2 separate regions of the Homo sapiens genome follow, and region 2 is linked to region 1. A link means that fine-mapping ties the variant in region 1 to the expression of a gene that starts in the linked region. Tissue or cell type: whole blood. Region 1 holds a variant in brackets; the other region holds the start of a gene. All regions are shown on one strand. Distances are between the middles of the regions.

Region 1 (8,103 bases):
AAATGAGTTTTTAAAAAAGGTGAATGCTGCCGGCATGAAGTCATTCTGCCAGCTTTATAAAACAGAGACAGTTATAGTGTTTGTCCTAATTTCAGGCACAAAATCTACCTTTTAAATCACTGGCAAGTGGAAATAAAGTTTTTAGTGTCAGGCAGGGACCTCTTTCCCACCACATTATTTTTTGTTGCTGTTACTTAAACCATGTTAGTTACCTTGGGCTCTCCCCCACTTCATTCATAATCACTGGTAATTTACACTTTTAGTTTTGGCCTTGGCTTTGTTCCAGAATCTCCTAGAGAGGAGAGTGTGCCCTTTTCTTCGTTTTTTTTTTTGTTTTTTTTTTTTTTTTTTTTGAGACTGAGTTTCACTCTGTCAGCTGGACTGGAGTGCAGTGGCTCAATCCCAGGTCACTGCAACCTCCGCCTCCCAGGTTCGAGCAAATATCCTGCCTCAGCCACCTGAGTAGCTGGGACTACAGGCGCGCAGCCCCATGATGAGCCAATTTTTGTATTTTCAGTAGAAATGTGATTTCACCTTGTTGGCCAGGCTGGTCTTGAACTCCCAACCTCAGGTGATTCATCCACCTTGGCCTCCTAAAGTGCTGGGATTACAGGTGTGAGCCACCACACCTGGCCGAGTGTGCCCTTTAAAAAGGTGTAAGCAATCACCATTGCTTAATTTGCTTTTAGTCAGCATGTTTAACTTCTTTGGAATTCTCAAATAATATTTAAGGGGGCATGAGTTAAAAGGTCGAGAACTACTGTTGTAGAATGATACTGCTACAAATGCTTTCTTTTTTTTTATTTTAGAAAAATAACTAAAACTAGGCCGGGCGCGGTGGCTCACGCCTGTAATCCCAGCACTTTGGGAGGCCGAGGCGGGTGGATCACGAGGACAGGAAATCGAGACCATCCTGGCTAACACGGTGAAACCCCGTCTCTACTAAAAATTCAAAAAATTAGCCGGGCGTGATGGTGGGTGACTGTAGTCCCAGCTACTCAGGAGGCTGAGGCAGGAGAATGGCTGAGCCCGGGAGGTGGAGCTCGCAGTGAGCCAAGATTGCACCACTGCACTCCAGCCTGGGTGACAGAGCAAGACTCCGTCTCAAAAAAAGAAAAAAGAAAGAAAGAAAAATAACTAAAACTATGGATATAACAACCCAAGTGTCCATCAGCTGATAAATGGATAAACAAAATGTGGTCCATCAATACAATGGAATATTGTTCAGCCATTAAAAAAAAAAAGAATGGGGCTGGGTGCTGGGTGCAGTGGCTCACGCCTGTAATCCCAGCGCTTTGGGAGGCCGAGGCAGGCGGATCACGAGGTTAGGAGATCGAGACCATCCTGGCTAACACAGTGAAACTCCATCTCTACTAAAAATACAAAAAAATTAGCCGGGCGTGGTGGCACGTGCCTGTTAGTCCCAGTTACTCGGGAGGCTGAGGCAGAAGAATCATTTGAACTGGGGAGGCAGAGGTTGCAGTGAGCCAAGATAACGCCACTGCACTCCAGCCTGGGTGACAGAGCTAGACTCTGTCTCATAAAAAAAAAAAAAAAAAAGAATGAAGTGCTGATACATACTACTTCATGGGTGGACCTTGAAGACATTATACTATGTGAAAGAAAGAAAAAAAGGCCACATAGTGTACCATCCCCTTTTTATGAAATGGCCACAGCAGGCAAATTCATGGGGTCAGAAAGTTCTTCTTGCTTTCCAGGGACTGGAAGGAGGCCTGGGTGGGGAGTGGCTGCTGTGGGGCTTCTTTTTTGTGTGATGAAAATGTTCTGGAGTTAGATCGTATGATGGTTGCACAACTTTGTGGATACACTAAAAACCAATGAATGGTACACTTAGAAAGGGTGAATTTCACGGTATGTGAATTATGTCACAATAAAGCTGTTAAAAAAAAAAAAACTCTAGAGATGTAGATGTTAGTAGAGGTGTGAAATCTACCTACAGTCCCGGCTTAACACTTTCTTGGTCATGGCCCCATTGAGATTTTGATGTCTTTGGATCATCTACCCTGAGAAATGTAAGTACACATGAGACTTTGCATATGATCTCAGGGTCTCACTGGTCCCCATCCAAACTATCCACAGACCCCAGATCACCACCCCTGCTAGGAAGGTGAGCATGAAAACCTGGGACTGCTGGGTGCGGTGGCTCACGCCTGTAATCCCAGCACTTTGAGAGGCTGGGGTGGGAGGACTGCTTGAATCCAGGAGTTCGAGACAAGTCTGGGCAACACAATGAGACCCTCTCTCTACAAAAATTTTAAAATTAGCTGGGCGTGGTGGTTCACACCAGTAGTCCCAGCTACTTGGGAGGCTGAGGTAAGAAGACTGCATGAGCCCAGGAGTTCCAGCAACATAGTGAGACCTCATCTCTACTAAAAATTTTAAAAATTGGCTGGGCGTGGCAGTGCTCACCCGTAATCCCAGCTACTCAGGAGGCTGAAATGGGAGAATTGCTCGAGCCTGGGAGGTTGAGACTGCAGTGAGCCGTGATCATGCCGCTGCACTCCGGCCTGGGTGGCAGAGCGAGAGCCCATCTTAAAAAAGAAAAAAGAAAAAAAGCTGGGACTGAATCTAGCTGATTACTCCTGAAATACACTGAATTAGTAAATGACACTTAGGATGTAGACTGTCTAAGGACGAAATCATGCAGTGAATTGCCTTGTCCTTTACACTTCAGCCATGTGGTTTTATGTTTCAGGTGCCTCCGAAGAAGCCCTAAGTGCCGTGGCCCCAAGGGACCTTGAAGCATCCTCTGAACCAGAGCCCACACCGGGGGCAGCCAAACCAGAGACCCCACAGGCGCCCCCACTCCTTCCCCGTCGGCCCCCACCCAGAGTTCCTGCCATCAAGAAGCCAACCTTGAGAAGGACAGGAAAGGTAAAAGCCTGGTAACATAAAACCTCTTACTCCTAAGTTGCTCACATGTCTCGATAGATAAGAATTGTGGCCTGTAATCCCAGCACATTGGGAAGCCGAGGCAAGCGGATTACGAGGTCAGGAGTTCAAGACCAGCCTGACCAACATGGTGTGAAACCCCGTCTCTACTAAAAATAGAAAAATTAGCCGGGCGTGGTGGCGCACGCCTGTAATCCCAGCTACTCAGGAGGCTGAGGCAGGAGAATCACTTGAACCCAGGAGGCAGAGGTTGCAGTGAGCCGAAATCGTGCCACTGCATTCCAGCCTGAGCAGCAGAGTGAGACTCCACCTCAAAAAAAAAAAAAAC[A/AAAC]AAAAAAAAAAAACAGATTTGCGTCTCACAGATAAAAATCTAGTTCCCTATGGACATCCTCACGTTCATGAGTCCCAGACACAGGTGTGTCTTTGGGGAAAGTTTTGACAACTGCTTCTTCCCTCATATCCTACTGTGTCTTGGCTCTGGCTGAGAAGAACGAGGAGTCCACTGTCTGGCACATTGTCAGTGTGACAAGAACAGCTTGGAGGTATTATGCTTCCTAAGTGTTTTGAGTCCCCAAAGGGAACCATAGTGGGATGCTTTTCCCCACATGTTCTGGTACCGCCCATTTGCGTGTGGTCTGTGTTGTGTGCACATGGTTTCAAGGCATTAGGAAAACAGTAACCGATTCCCAGATTCGCCATGTTCACATGCTCTCGTGCGGCCTCAGCCTACGAGAGGTTCCACAGCTTTTCTTGCCACTTTTCTTGCAGATTGTTTTTTGCTCTCGCTCTCAAGCTTCTCAGCCTTGCTTACTGCTTCAAAGACATGAGTTTGTAAGGACAGTAGCAGCCCAAAGACTGGCATCTGTAGACACATCTGGATCTTCCGTTTGATCTCAGTGTTCTAGTAACGGACCCTCGGTAATCCCTTCCTGGTCATCACAGCACGATGCTGCTTCCCCCCTAGAGAGTGTGAGGGGGGCTTCGGCTTCACTCTTGACAGCGCTTGCTTTGTATTTCCTGGGTTGCTCTTCTGTCCCACATTGGCTCATTGCCATCTGTCCCTTGTCCATGCTTCCTTACAAAGTGGACCTTTTTCCTCCGCCTCTTCCCTGTTCAGATGCTCCTCGACTTAAAATGGGGTTACATCCCAATAAACCCATCGTAAGTTGAAAAATAGCGTGTCAAAACTGCATCTCATACACCTAACCTAGCAAACGTCATGGTCTCGCTGACCTTGAACACACTCAGAACACATACATTAGCCTACGGCTGGGCAAAAAAAAAAAAAAAAAAAAAAAACACCCATCCAACACAGCCTATTTTATAATAATAAAAATAAAAGATCAAACTTCAAAATTCAAAGTATGCTTTCTACGGAACATTAGCGCTTGTGCACTAGGGTGAAGTGGAAAATCCTCAGTGGAACCATTGTAAGTCGGGGACCACCTGCTTTGTCTTTTCTTGTAAAAGCCAGGAGCAGAAATAGATTCATTTTCCCAACCTGCTGCACAGGAGTTAAAGTTAAAAGGCTGTTGGAAAAGAGACTTTCTTTTTTCTTAGTTTGTTTTCTAAAGAACCAAAGAAACACTGAAACGCCAATGTTTAACTAGTCTACTGATCACCTTTTCTGAACAAAAGCTTCATTTTGCCTGTGCAGTTGTTTTCTTTGTGATAGATTTGAACCAGAACCAAGGCAGTGTCAAGGTTTCCATTCTTTACCAATATTTAAGTATAAAAGATTCAAGGAGCTGGGCGCGGTGGCTCACGCGTGTAATCCCAGCACTTTGGGAGGCTGAGGCGGGTGGATCACCTGAGGTCAGGAGTTCAAGACCAGCCTGACCAACATGGTGAAACCCCGTCTCTACTACAAAATACAAAAATTAGCCAGGCATGGTGGCAGGCGCCTGCAATCCCAGCTACTCGGGAGGCTGAAGCAGGAGAATCGCTTGAACCTGGGAGGCGGAGGTTACAGTGAGCTGAGATTGCGCCATTGCACTCCAGCCTGGGGGACAGGGCGAGACTCCTTCTCAAAAAAAAAAAAAAAATTCAAGGAGAAAGTATATCCATTAGTCCTTCAGTTAGCTTATGTTGTAACACAAGTTACTTCACCCTAGCATGATACAGACCATGAATCAGCCCAGGTTGCAACTTCAAAGAGTGTTTTCAGAGAGGTTTGCTTTCAATAAAGGAAGAGCATCACCCCATTTCCTAAAGGACAAAGAAAAGTTTGTCTGATTATTTACTGTGGCCCTGGTTTTAAATTTTCCACTCGTTTTCATTGGACCTGCTGGTGTGACCTGATAAATGTGTGTTTCTCCTGTGCTTTTTCTTTTTCTTACCTGGTCACATTTCTGGCACCCCACACATTCTCAAATCTCGAATTTGCTAGAATGTCAGCTTGGTCTCATCTCTGTTCTCTGCTGGCCACTCTGTTCTCTGATCCTCAGCTGCCTAGTTATTGGCTTCTTATTTACACTCTTTGTCCCACCTTTTCTCAGCCCCTGTCACCGGAAGAACAGTTTGAGCAACAGACTGTCCATTTTACAATCGGGCCCCCGGAGACAAGCGTTGAGGCCCCTCCTGTCGTGACAGCCCCTCGAGTCCCTCCTGTTCCCAAACCAAGAACATTTCAGCCTGGGAAAGCTGCAGAGAGGCCAAGCCACAGGAAGCCAGCATCAGACGAAGCCCCTCCTGGGGCAGGAGCCTCTGTGCCACCACCTCTGGAGGCGCCGCCTCTTGTGCCCAAGGTACCCCCGAGGAGGAAGAAGTCAGCCCCCGCAGCCTTCCACCTGCAGGTCCTGCAGAGCAACAGCCAGCTTCTCCAGGGCCTCACTTACAATAGCAGTGACAGCCCCTCTGGGCACCCACCTGCCGCGGGCACCGTCTTCCCACAAGGGGACTTTCTCAGCACTTCATCTGCTACAAGCCCCGACAGCGATGGCACCAAAGCGATGAAGCCAGAGGCAGCCCCACTTCTTGGTGATTATCAGGACCCCTTCTGGAACCTTCTTCACCACCCTAAACTGTTGAATAACACTTGGCTTTCTAAGAGCTCAGACCCTTTGGACTCAGGAACCAGGAGCCCCAAAAGAGATCCCATAGACCCAGTGTCAGCTGGCGCTTCAGCTGCCAAGGCAGAGCTGCCACCAGATCATGAACACAAAACCTTAGGTCACTGGGTGACAATCAGTGACCAAGAAAAGAGGACAGCACTGCAGGTGTTTGACCCACTGGCAAAAACATGACTGAGCAGCTTTGAAGGCTGCAGTCCTATAGAATGCATACCTTCCTCCCTCTAGACATCCCTCCACCAGAAGAGACATCTATTTAAAGGCACACTGGCCAAAACGTTTGTGCATCTGTCACTCTCGTGTAGTTTACAAAAATCGTGTCTCTTATTCAGTAAGATGGTTACTCAGCCACCAAAATATATTTCACTCAAGGCTTGTACATCTGAAGTTTGCTCTTCAAGGAATGGGAACCTTCCTGTTAAATTCGGTGTATGGATTTTAAGAAAGGAATCTAGCCAATGAGGTCCAAGAAGTTCTCACCCATTGAATTTTTAAATGGCTGTTCAGTTCATGTTGTACGTGATGGAGATTTGTCTTTTGTTTTATTTGCATTTTACAGATTTGGTATAACATTTTGGGGAGCCACCTGAAGGTTGATGTATAAAGTAAGGATTAGAGAAAGAGGTCGTTGTGACCATTAGTAGCTGTCCTGGCCCACTTAAACAAGGTTACAAAAAATCAGAGTCGGAAGCAGCCAAATAGGTCAACCTAATGACTAGACTGTACATTCCCATGAGCCTTCATGTTTAAGTGTGTACATGTGCGTTAACCTTGATGATGCGTGAATCCCGAGGGAGCCGGTGGCATACACCGTTAGCTTAACCTTAGCTTAAACTAGCTGAAGGCTCCTGTGCCATGTCTTAGACATTGCATGCCCTATCAATTACTATAATCCTGAGCCATGGTGTGCTACTGAAACCAATTTTTATCCACCATCTAGTCCTTATTAAATGAAACCTCACGGATCCTTTGTTCCGCTTATATTCCATGCATACCACATAAAAGCACACAGTGCGAAAACTCTTGCTGATACGCGATATTGATTCTCATTGTTAGAATATGGAGAGTGTTTCAGCCTCGTCTGTCCGGCTGGAGCTTCGGGATGGAAAGTGCTATGTGTCCCTGCATATAAGAATCACCAGGCCAGTGTTTCTGGGTTTGCTTGTCTATATGTTTGTCTATATTTTTTGCCTATACATTTTTCCCACGTTTCCAACAGCACTTCTCACCTATTCAATAACTGAAAAAGACATTACCATAGTGCTTTACATTTTTAAAGTAATGTTACAAGGTCTGGAATCCATTTGGAGCAGATACCGTGTTTTCGCTATTTAATAAGAAGTTCAGTAGTGAAATCTTACTGTACCGCCTGTTGTATCTGGGAGCCTCGTACAGAGGCTCGCACAGCAGTGATCAAGTGTCATCCCTTACGTGACTGGGGGATGTCTGTCCTAAAAGCTGACTGCTAGGATAGTAAGGATCATCTTGCCTGGGCTATGCCACTGTCTTGTTACCAATTAGACATCTGGAATTTCATAATTAGTTTTCATTGTCACTGTCAAGATATATTGCAGATTACTTAAATATGGCCATCAAAACAAAAGTTACAACACGTATCTCTTTTCATCTGAAAACTAATACCTGGAAAAGGATAAAAAAAAAAAGGAATCCGTGACCCACAGAGCTAGACAGATAAGATGCATAGTTGACCAGTCATAAAAGGCGGTGTTTAGGTGATCAGGATGCCGTTGGTGGCATTTACGTGCTTTATATGATTTTTACCTCTGTAACAAACACAAGAAATAAACAGAATGGTCCTTAACAGAGTTTGGGGGAGAGAGCAAGATGGGTTCCTTGGAGAAGCTGATTTGCCAAGATGCACATCGCTATTAACAGCCAGAGTCATAAATGAAATGAAATTGAAGAATTCATTCAAATGCTCTTTTCCCTATAACCTCTTTTCTCACCAAAAAGGAGATAAATTTGAAAACAGATAAATGTAACAACCAGTCAAAGAAGCAGGGGAAAAGTAAGCTCCTCCAAAGTTGCTTGCAGTGCTGGAAATAGATCTCATTTTTAGGTTTTCTCTTCGTTCCAGATACCAAATAAATGGGACAGAGAA
Region 2 (8,103 bases), 560 kb after region 1:
GCATCTAAGGTAGCCGACCTCCTCATCCTCCACCCCTGCATCCTGTACATTTTCCTCATAGCACTTCTCTCAGTTTGCAAGAACGTATTTATGGTTGCTTGTTGATGGTGTGTCTCCATTTAGAAACTAAGTACCATGCAGGAAGGATCTGTTTTATTCACTAATGTATCCCCTTCCTTCCACATTGTGCCTGGCACATAATAGCTACACAATTAACATTTATTTATTTATTTATTTAGAGACAGGGTGTCATTCTGTTGCCCGGGCTGGAATGCAGTGGTGTGATCGGAGATTTTGAGCTAAGATGTGTTGAAGTTTAGTCATCCAAAGACCACTAAGAGCTTGAACTCCTGGGCTCAAGGTATTCTCCTGCCTTAGCCTCCTGAGCAGCTGGGATTCCAGGCACTAGCCACCACACCCACCTATTTTTTTAATATGTCTTTTGTAGAGATGGGATCTCACTGTGTTGCCCAGGCAGGTCTCAAACTCCCGGGCTTAAGGGATCCTCCAGCCTCAGCCTCCCAAAGTGCTGGGATTATAGCTGTGAGCCACCATGCCCGGCCTAAAATTTATTGCATGAATCATTTCCCTCATGGGTGTTAGCTTTGCCTCAGACCCAAATGGAGAGAACTGGGGAGTGGAGGAAGATGCAACTACCTGCCTCCTTGAGGGAAACAGGGCTGGCGAGAGGAGGGCAGAGCCCTGACTGACACAAGGCTGCTTGGCCCTGGGTGTTCGGCCTGAGCGAGGAGACTTGCTGGGCAGGCTGGTTGCTTTACCACACCTGGTCTTCCTCTCCTTGGATTCTGAACTTTATCTACCTTTTGAATTCCTTTCTTATTACCTGGCTTCAACTCCCCTGTCCTGGTGTTTCAGTCGTGCGCCTCAGTCCACATGTGATTCTGATGCTGACATTGCTTTGCCTGCCTGCCCTTCTCAGTATCACCTGAGATCTCGTTTTGGATGTTCTCTGCCTACCTGGTTCCAAGCTCTTGGCCCCACCACGATCCTGAGCCAATCAGGAGCCTCTGAAATCTTTTTTCTTCTGCTACTTTGTTGTGGACCTGGAGTTCAGTAGCTAAGTGTCACAGAATTATGTGCAAAGCAAGAGTAAACCGGTTCTGAGCAAACACCTGCAATGGAAGAACATGACACTTGGGACAGCCTTTTCAATTTTCCCCACAACCTTTTAGGAACTTCCTAATTTAAATCAATTTCCTGAATGTCTGCTAGGATGGTGCATAATTAATGCATGGATCTTGTTATAACTGCGGATCACCAGCATGCACATAAATCAACAGAAAACATGCAAATGTGCATTTTAAAAATGCTTACATGATTTTAGCTTTTATACATTGGGTACCACTCTCCAATTTTAACTATTAAAGAACATTTGTTAAATGATCGCGATGTATGACATTTTGAGGCTGCCAGTAAACGGATGAGCTGGTCTGTTTATCTTCACAACTATCTGTTCACTTGTTCAATACACATATATGGAGCACTCCCTTTGTGTCAGGCTCTGAGCTGGGGGTTGAGGCTACAAAGTTGACTAAAACATGGCCTTTATGGAATTTTTTCTTTTAAACGGATATATCTGTAAATAGGAGGGTTTGAATTCTCTAGGCTTATGTGATGTTGTAGTGCTTGGAAAAATGCAGTGATGTGGTATTATATTCTGCCCAACTGATGTAGTCTGTAGGGCTAAGGAATTTAAAATCGTTAAGACATTTGGCAGTTCACCAGATGCCATTTCCAGCACCTTCCATCTGCCACGAATGGATGTCCATCAGAAGCATTGGAGCTCAGACACCTTTACTCGTAACTGCTCATGAATCTTTGGCATTCTGCCATATTTTAGAATAATGTTTAGTTTCTATGCAGTAAGTCAGTGGAGTGAATCTTAGGTTTGTTTTTCAATTTGGAGGTTAGTGATAGGTTGGCAGGTTTGCGTGCAATCACCTTTCTTTTCTGGAGTCAAATTTCTTGAATACAGACTGTGGGACTGGAGCTGCCAATACCTTTATTTAGCAAGTGTGGGCCTAATAATCATAGCAATCAATGAACTGTCACATCAATAAATAACATCAATAATATCCAGCAGTGGCTGGGCGCAGTGGCTCACACCTGTAATCCCAGTACTTTGGGAGGCTGAGGTGGGCAGATCACCAGAGGTCGGGAGTTCGAGACTAGCCTGACCAACATGGAGAAACCCTATCTCTACTAAAAATACAAAATTAGCCAGGCATGGTGGTGCATGCTTGTAATCCCAGCTACTTGGGAGGCTGAGGCAGGAGAATCGCTTGAACCCAGGAGGCAGAGATTGCGGTGAGCTGAGATAGCGCCATTGCACTCCAGCCCGGGTAACAAGAGCGAAACTCCGTCTCAAAAAATAAAATAATAGGCCAGGCGTGGTGGCTCACGCCTGTAATCCCAGCACTTTGGGAGGCCGAGGCGGGCGGATCACGAGGTCAGGAGATCGAGACCATCCTGGCTAACACGGTGAAACCCTGTATCTACTAAAAATACAAAAAATTAGCTGGGTGCGGTGGTGGGCGCCTGTAGTCCCAGCTACTCGGGAGGCTGAGGCAGGAGAATAGCGTGAACCCGGGAGGCGGAGCTTGCAGTGAGCCGAGATCGCGCCACTGCAGTCCCGACTGGGTGAAAGAGCGAGACTCGGTCTCAAAAAAAAAAAAAAAAAAATAATAATAATAATAATATCCAGCAGTGTTGTTCTGCTATAATCTGCAGCCCTTCATAGTCCAAATGCCATCCTGTGGATTTTCCATTTTTTCCTTTCTTCCCCTGTGCCAAGAAGTGTGTTACTATGAGATCATGCTGAGTCAAAATAATAGTAACAGAAGAAGACGATGAGGACGAGGGTGCTGTTGAAACACTCATGGCTGAGGAATTTAATGTTGTAAAGGAAAAGAAACTCTGGCTGACACATATCTAAAGTGAGAGTCCTGTGCTGAGAAAAGCTAAAGAGATTAGCTAAGAAGTGCCTATATTTAGATCTGCTATTGAGCTGGGAAGCGGAGGCACAGTTGTGCTGAAATACCTCTGTACCCCATGAAACAGTGGCTGCTCTGAGCTTCTTGGGTCCCTCTTCCTCTCAATCCTGGTGACTGCAGCCCCTTCCCTGGGACCTCATCCCCAAGATCCAATAACTAAAGGATAACTCGTGGTATAGCAGGGCCTCCGCTGGCATTTGTTCCAATGGGTAAATATTCATGCTATAGTAGTTATTAAATAGTTTGGTGCTCAGTTCTGTGTTTGTGAAAACACTACACACTACATCAGCAGAATAGGCTAGGTTAGCTGCAGAAACAAATGGCCCTACACTCTCAGTGGTTGATGACAGCAAACATTTATTTGCCACTCACACTCCATGACCATCAAGGATCTTCCATGGCTCTGCTTCATGTCTTCTCCATGCTGAGACGAGGTTGCTGGAGCAGCCTGTGTCTGGAGTCATCAAGGGAAAGAGAAGGGAAAGAGAATGAATGGTGGCCCCAGTACTGGCTCGGTAGGTGCCAAGCCTACGTGGCACGTGGCACCTTTGCACACACTTCATTGTCTTATTGCTCTCCAGAGCAAGTCCTTGGCCATGCCTGAGTTAGCAGGGCAGGGACACTTCACGGTGCTGAGTAATACTACCTAGTACACGCACAGCATTTTGAAGGTTCCCCTTGGTGATTTCATTACAATCTTCATCGCTCTTGGCCTGGCTGTCCCCCTTTCTTGTAAATTATTCTTGAGTTAATAGCTGTTCTTTGAGATGTGGTTAGTCATTTACACTGAAGTCAATGTGAAACCCTTCACAAATGTGAGAACATTTGAATATTTGAAGGCTGTAGTCTCTGTAGGGAGTTTCCTTAGGAAGGGTGAAACATTTCACCAGCATCAGCCTGGTCTTTCCTCCAGCTAAAAATGTAAAATGTTGGCATAGAAGAGCTCCTTGATGTGGTTTTGGGGTGGCTTTGCTCCCTGGGTCCCTAGTGATGTGGGAGTAGCCACCGAGGCATGTAAGGCTGGCCACACAGGGTGCACTGCGTCAGCCTGTGCCCGACAGGAAGGGAAGAGAAATACGTCAGTTACTCTAACAAGAAGAATTGACTTCCTTCTCTGCAGAGCCGGCTCTGGTCTCTTCTCTTGAAGCAGATGCGAAGGTAGGATGAGAAGGCATGGCTGGCCGTTGCAGCAGGTCGTTTTAGGAGTGGGGGAGTGGGGTGGGTAGAGATTATAGTTATTGTAACTTTTCTTAAATTTATGACATTGAAAAGGTAGGAAACAAAACATAATAAATTAGATAAAAGATATCTTGTAATTTTATTGAATAACATACATTTAACATTTGAGATAATAATGATTTAAGTGATATGGTGGAAGTGACTTCAGAGTTAATTAAAAACCAAAACAAAACAGAAAAACACTATCCAAAAGCTATATGGTGTGATTTTTTTTTTTAAAGGGTAGAGTGTCATTTGCTTTCTTCTTTGGTTTGCAAATTCTTATACTTACAGTTTATTACTATTTTGCTCTCTCTGAATCGACTTTATTGTTTTGATCATCCGTAATTTCTCGTTTGGAGGTGGAACATAAATATCATTTTGGAATTATAAAAAAGTTAGCTAGGGTCTAATTTAAATTTCTTTTAATTAAGCTTCCTTAATCTCTAAATTGCTTGGTAAGAAAGAGACTATGAGAGGAAAGTGCACATTAGATATTAAAGATTTATTAAATTAGAATTGGGCTGGGTGCGGTGGCTCACGCCTGTAATCCCAGTACTTTGGGAGGCCAAGGTGGGTAGATCCCTTGAGATCAGGAATTTGAGACCAGCCTGGCCAACATGATGAAACCCCATCTCTAAAAAAAAAAAAAAAATACAAAAATTAGCTGGGTGTGGTGGCAGGCACCTGTAATCCCAGCTGCCCAGGAGGCTGAGGCACGAGAATCACTTGAACCTGGGAGGCGGAGGTGGCAGTGAGCCAAGATCCTGCCACTGCAATCCAGCCTGGGCAACAGAGTAAGACTCCGTCTCAAAAAAAGAAAAAAAGAAATTAGAATTGGTGTAGAAAAGATTATTTAGCCAAGATAGTTGGAGATTCTAACTTAGCTGCTTTGCCTAAATGAAGCATAAGGTTTTGGAGTTAAACAGACCCAGTTTAGAGTGTGAGTTTAGGTAAGTTACTTAATCACTCCAAGACTCACTCTCCTCATCTGTAGAATGGGTACATTTACTTCATAATGTGGCAATAAGGATTAGTAGAGATAATGTATGCAAAGTACTTAAACTATCTGGTTCAGAGTAAGAGCTAAATAAATAGTAGCTGTTGGCACAACAGAAAGCATAACAACAATTGTGAGTAGTACCTAGAAGGATATAATAATATTAATTCTCGGCCGGGTGTGATGGCTCACGCCTGTCATCTCAGCACTTTGGGAGGCCTAGGCGGATGGATCATGAGGTCAAGAGATCGAGATCATCCTGGCCAACATGGTGAAACTCTACTAAAAAATACAAAAAAATTAGCTGGGTGTGGTGGCGGGCGCCTGTAGTCCCAGCTACTCAGGAGGCTGAGGCAGGGGAATTGCTTGAACCCGGGAGGTGGAGGTTGCAGTGAGCTGAGATCGCGCCACTGCACTCCAGCCTGGTGACAGAGCGAGACTCCATCTCAAATAAATAAATAAATAAATAAATAATAATATTAATTCTCATTTCTTTGCTCTTCCATACAAAGAGGTCAAGTTTAAAGTATGAATGCCATGGCTTCCTATTTCAGTCATGAATTCCTATTTCTGATTCTAAAGTAATATTTTTTGTTGTTTTTGGGTGGTAAAAGGCTCCCCGAATGAGAAAGAATACTCGGAATCAGCGGTGAATTGCAGTGATCTTTCAGAGAAAGCGCCTGTTCAACTTTGTCCTCTCTCAGGTAGGCTTCAAGTTTTATAGATTCAAGCCCACGTGTGAGTCTTCTAATGTTTTATTTATTTATTTATTTATTTTTATGTATTTTTATTTTTTTTTATTTATTTGAGATGGAGTCTCACTCTGTTGCCCAGGCTGGAGTGCAATGGCACGATCTCGGTTCACTGCAACCCCTGCCTCCCAGGTTCAAGTGATTCTCCTGCCTCAGCCTCCCCGGTAGCTAGGATTACAGGTGCCTGCCACCATGCCCAGATAATTTTTGTATTTTTAGTATAGATGAGGTTTCACCAGGTTGGCTAGGCTGGTCTCAAACTCCTGACCTCAGGTGATCCACCCACCTCGGCCTCCCAAAGTGTTGGGATTACAGGTGTGAGCCACCGAGCCCAGCCTGTTTATTTATTTACTTATTTTATTATTATTATTTTTTGAGACAGAGTCTCACTCTGTTGCCCAGGCTAGAGTGCAGTGGCTGCAATTTCAGCTCACTGCAAGCTCTGCCTCCCGGGTTAACACCATTCTCCTGCCTCAGCCTCCGAAGTAGCTGGGACTATAGGCACCTGCCGCCACACCTGGCTAATTTTTTTGTATTTTTAGTGGAGACAGGGTTTTAACATGTTGGCCAGGATGGTCTCCATCTCCTGACTTCATGATCCACCTGCCTCGTCCTCCCAAAGTGCTGGGATTACAAGCGTGAGCCACCACGCCCGGCCTTATTTATTTTTTTGAGACAGAGTCTCGCTCTGTCACCCAGGCTGGAGTGCAATGGCGCGATCTCAGCTCACTGCAACCTCCACCTCCCAGGTTCAAACAATTCTGTCTCAGCTTCCCGAGTAGCTGGGATTACAGGTGCCCACCACCATGCCCGGCTAATTTTTGTATTTTTAGTAAAGACAGGGTTTCACCATGTTGGCCAGGCTGGTCTCAAAACTCCTGACCTCGTGATCCACCCACCTCAGCTTCCCAAAGTGCTGGGATTACAGGCGTGAGCCACCGCACCCAGCCGAGTCTTCTAATGTGAAGTAGAGATATCTGAGGGACCTGAAACTTGTACAACTTGTGGAGACTTTGGGAAAACAAAGAGGGAACCAGGTACAGGGCATCTAGGGCCTTGGACAGGGCCGTGCAAATAAAGGATTCTGAAGTTGAGGTGTCATTCGCTTCCCAGAAAACCCACCTCTGAATGAGTAACAAGATAGACAGAAAATGTATAAACGCACATCTTCATTTCTGTGTCAGACTTTCTGATGGATATGCATGCGTGCTGTCTCATTGTTGCAAAAATGAGTCTTTTAAGCCTATGAATAGGGAACTGAGCTGAGAGCTGTTCTTTATTCATCACCTTCCTTTGTGGCTGTAATCAGCTTCCGTAAAGAATCTATGCAAGCAGGCCGGTCGCAGTGGCTCACACCTGTAATCCCAGCACTTTGGGAGGCCACGGTGGGCAGATCACCTGAGGTTGGGAGTTTGAGACCAGCCTGACCAACATGAAGAAACCCTGTCTCTACTAAAAATACAAAATTAGCGGAGGATGGTGGTGCATGCCTGTAATGTCAGCTACTCGGGAGGTTGAGGCAGGAGAATTTCATGAACCTGGGAGGCGGAGGTTGTGGTGAGCCAAGATCGCGCCATTGCATTCCCGCCTGGGCAACAAGAGCGAACTCCGTCTCAGAGAAAAAAAAAAAGAATCTATGCAAGCAAAAAAGTCATGAGGTTTTCAGGTAAAATTTCAAGGACAATGCAGTCACTCAACTTTTCCCCTGTGTACGAGGCAGAAAGCATGGTGGCTGCACGCTGAAGCTGTGAAACTTCTCAAGGAAATAGCTGTGGTAAACAATACAGGAGCGAGCTGCCGCCCGCTTGAAATGACCTGCAGGGCTGTGGCTTGTGGGCTTTGAGAACGTTCTGTAGTCTTCCCTTGAAAGCGTGTGTGGTGATGACAGTCACATTCACACGCACTCATGCTACCGCAGATCTCTGCATTTCCACTCTGGTGACGTTTCCCCCGTACCAGGGAGGGCTGAACATTTATTTCCTTTGATCTGATGACTGACTGCTCAGAGACAATAGATGATTGGATGAAAGAAATAGGGGCCCCTAAGAATAAACAATGTGTCCCTTTCCCATCCTCCTCATCTCTTTTCTTCATTGGTTTTACTTTTCTTGTACTTTTC

The links. PIP is the estimated chance that this variant, and not a neighbour inherited with it, causes the effect.
Region 2: SYTL3 starts here. The variant in region 1 is fine-mapped to the expression of SYTL3 in whole blood (INTERVAL, PIP 0.96).

The regions. Positions count from the first base shown.
Region 1 is chr6:158,090,210-158,098,312 of GRCh38, forward strand. SYNJ2 (synaptojanin 2) reads left to right here. Exons shown (of 27, transcript NM_003898.4): 26 at 2,717-2,895; 27 at 5,409-8,103. The coding sequence ends at 6,155. Among named protein-coding and RNA genes, the nearest start is that of SERAC1, 74 kb to the right of the region's middle. RefSeq lists an enhancer at 5,674-6,174. The variant A/AAAC (reference allele first, on the strand shown) is at 3,242.
Region 2 is chr6:158,645,907-158,654,009 of GRCh38, forward strand. SYTL3 (synaptotagmin like 3) reads left to right here and starts at 4,148. Exons shown (of 18, transcript NM_001242394.2): 1 at 4,148-4,172; 2 at 5,847-5,936.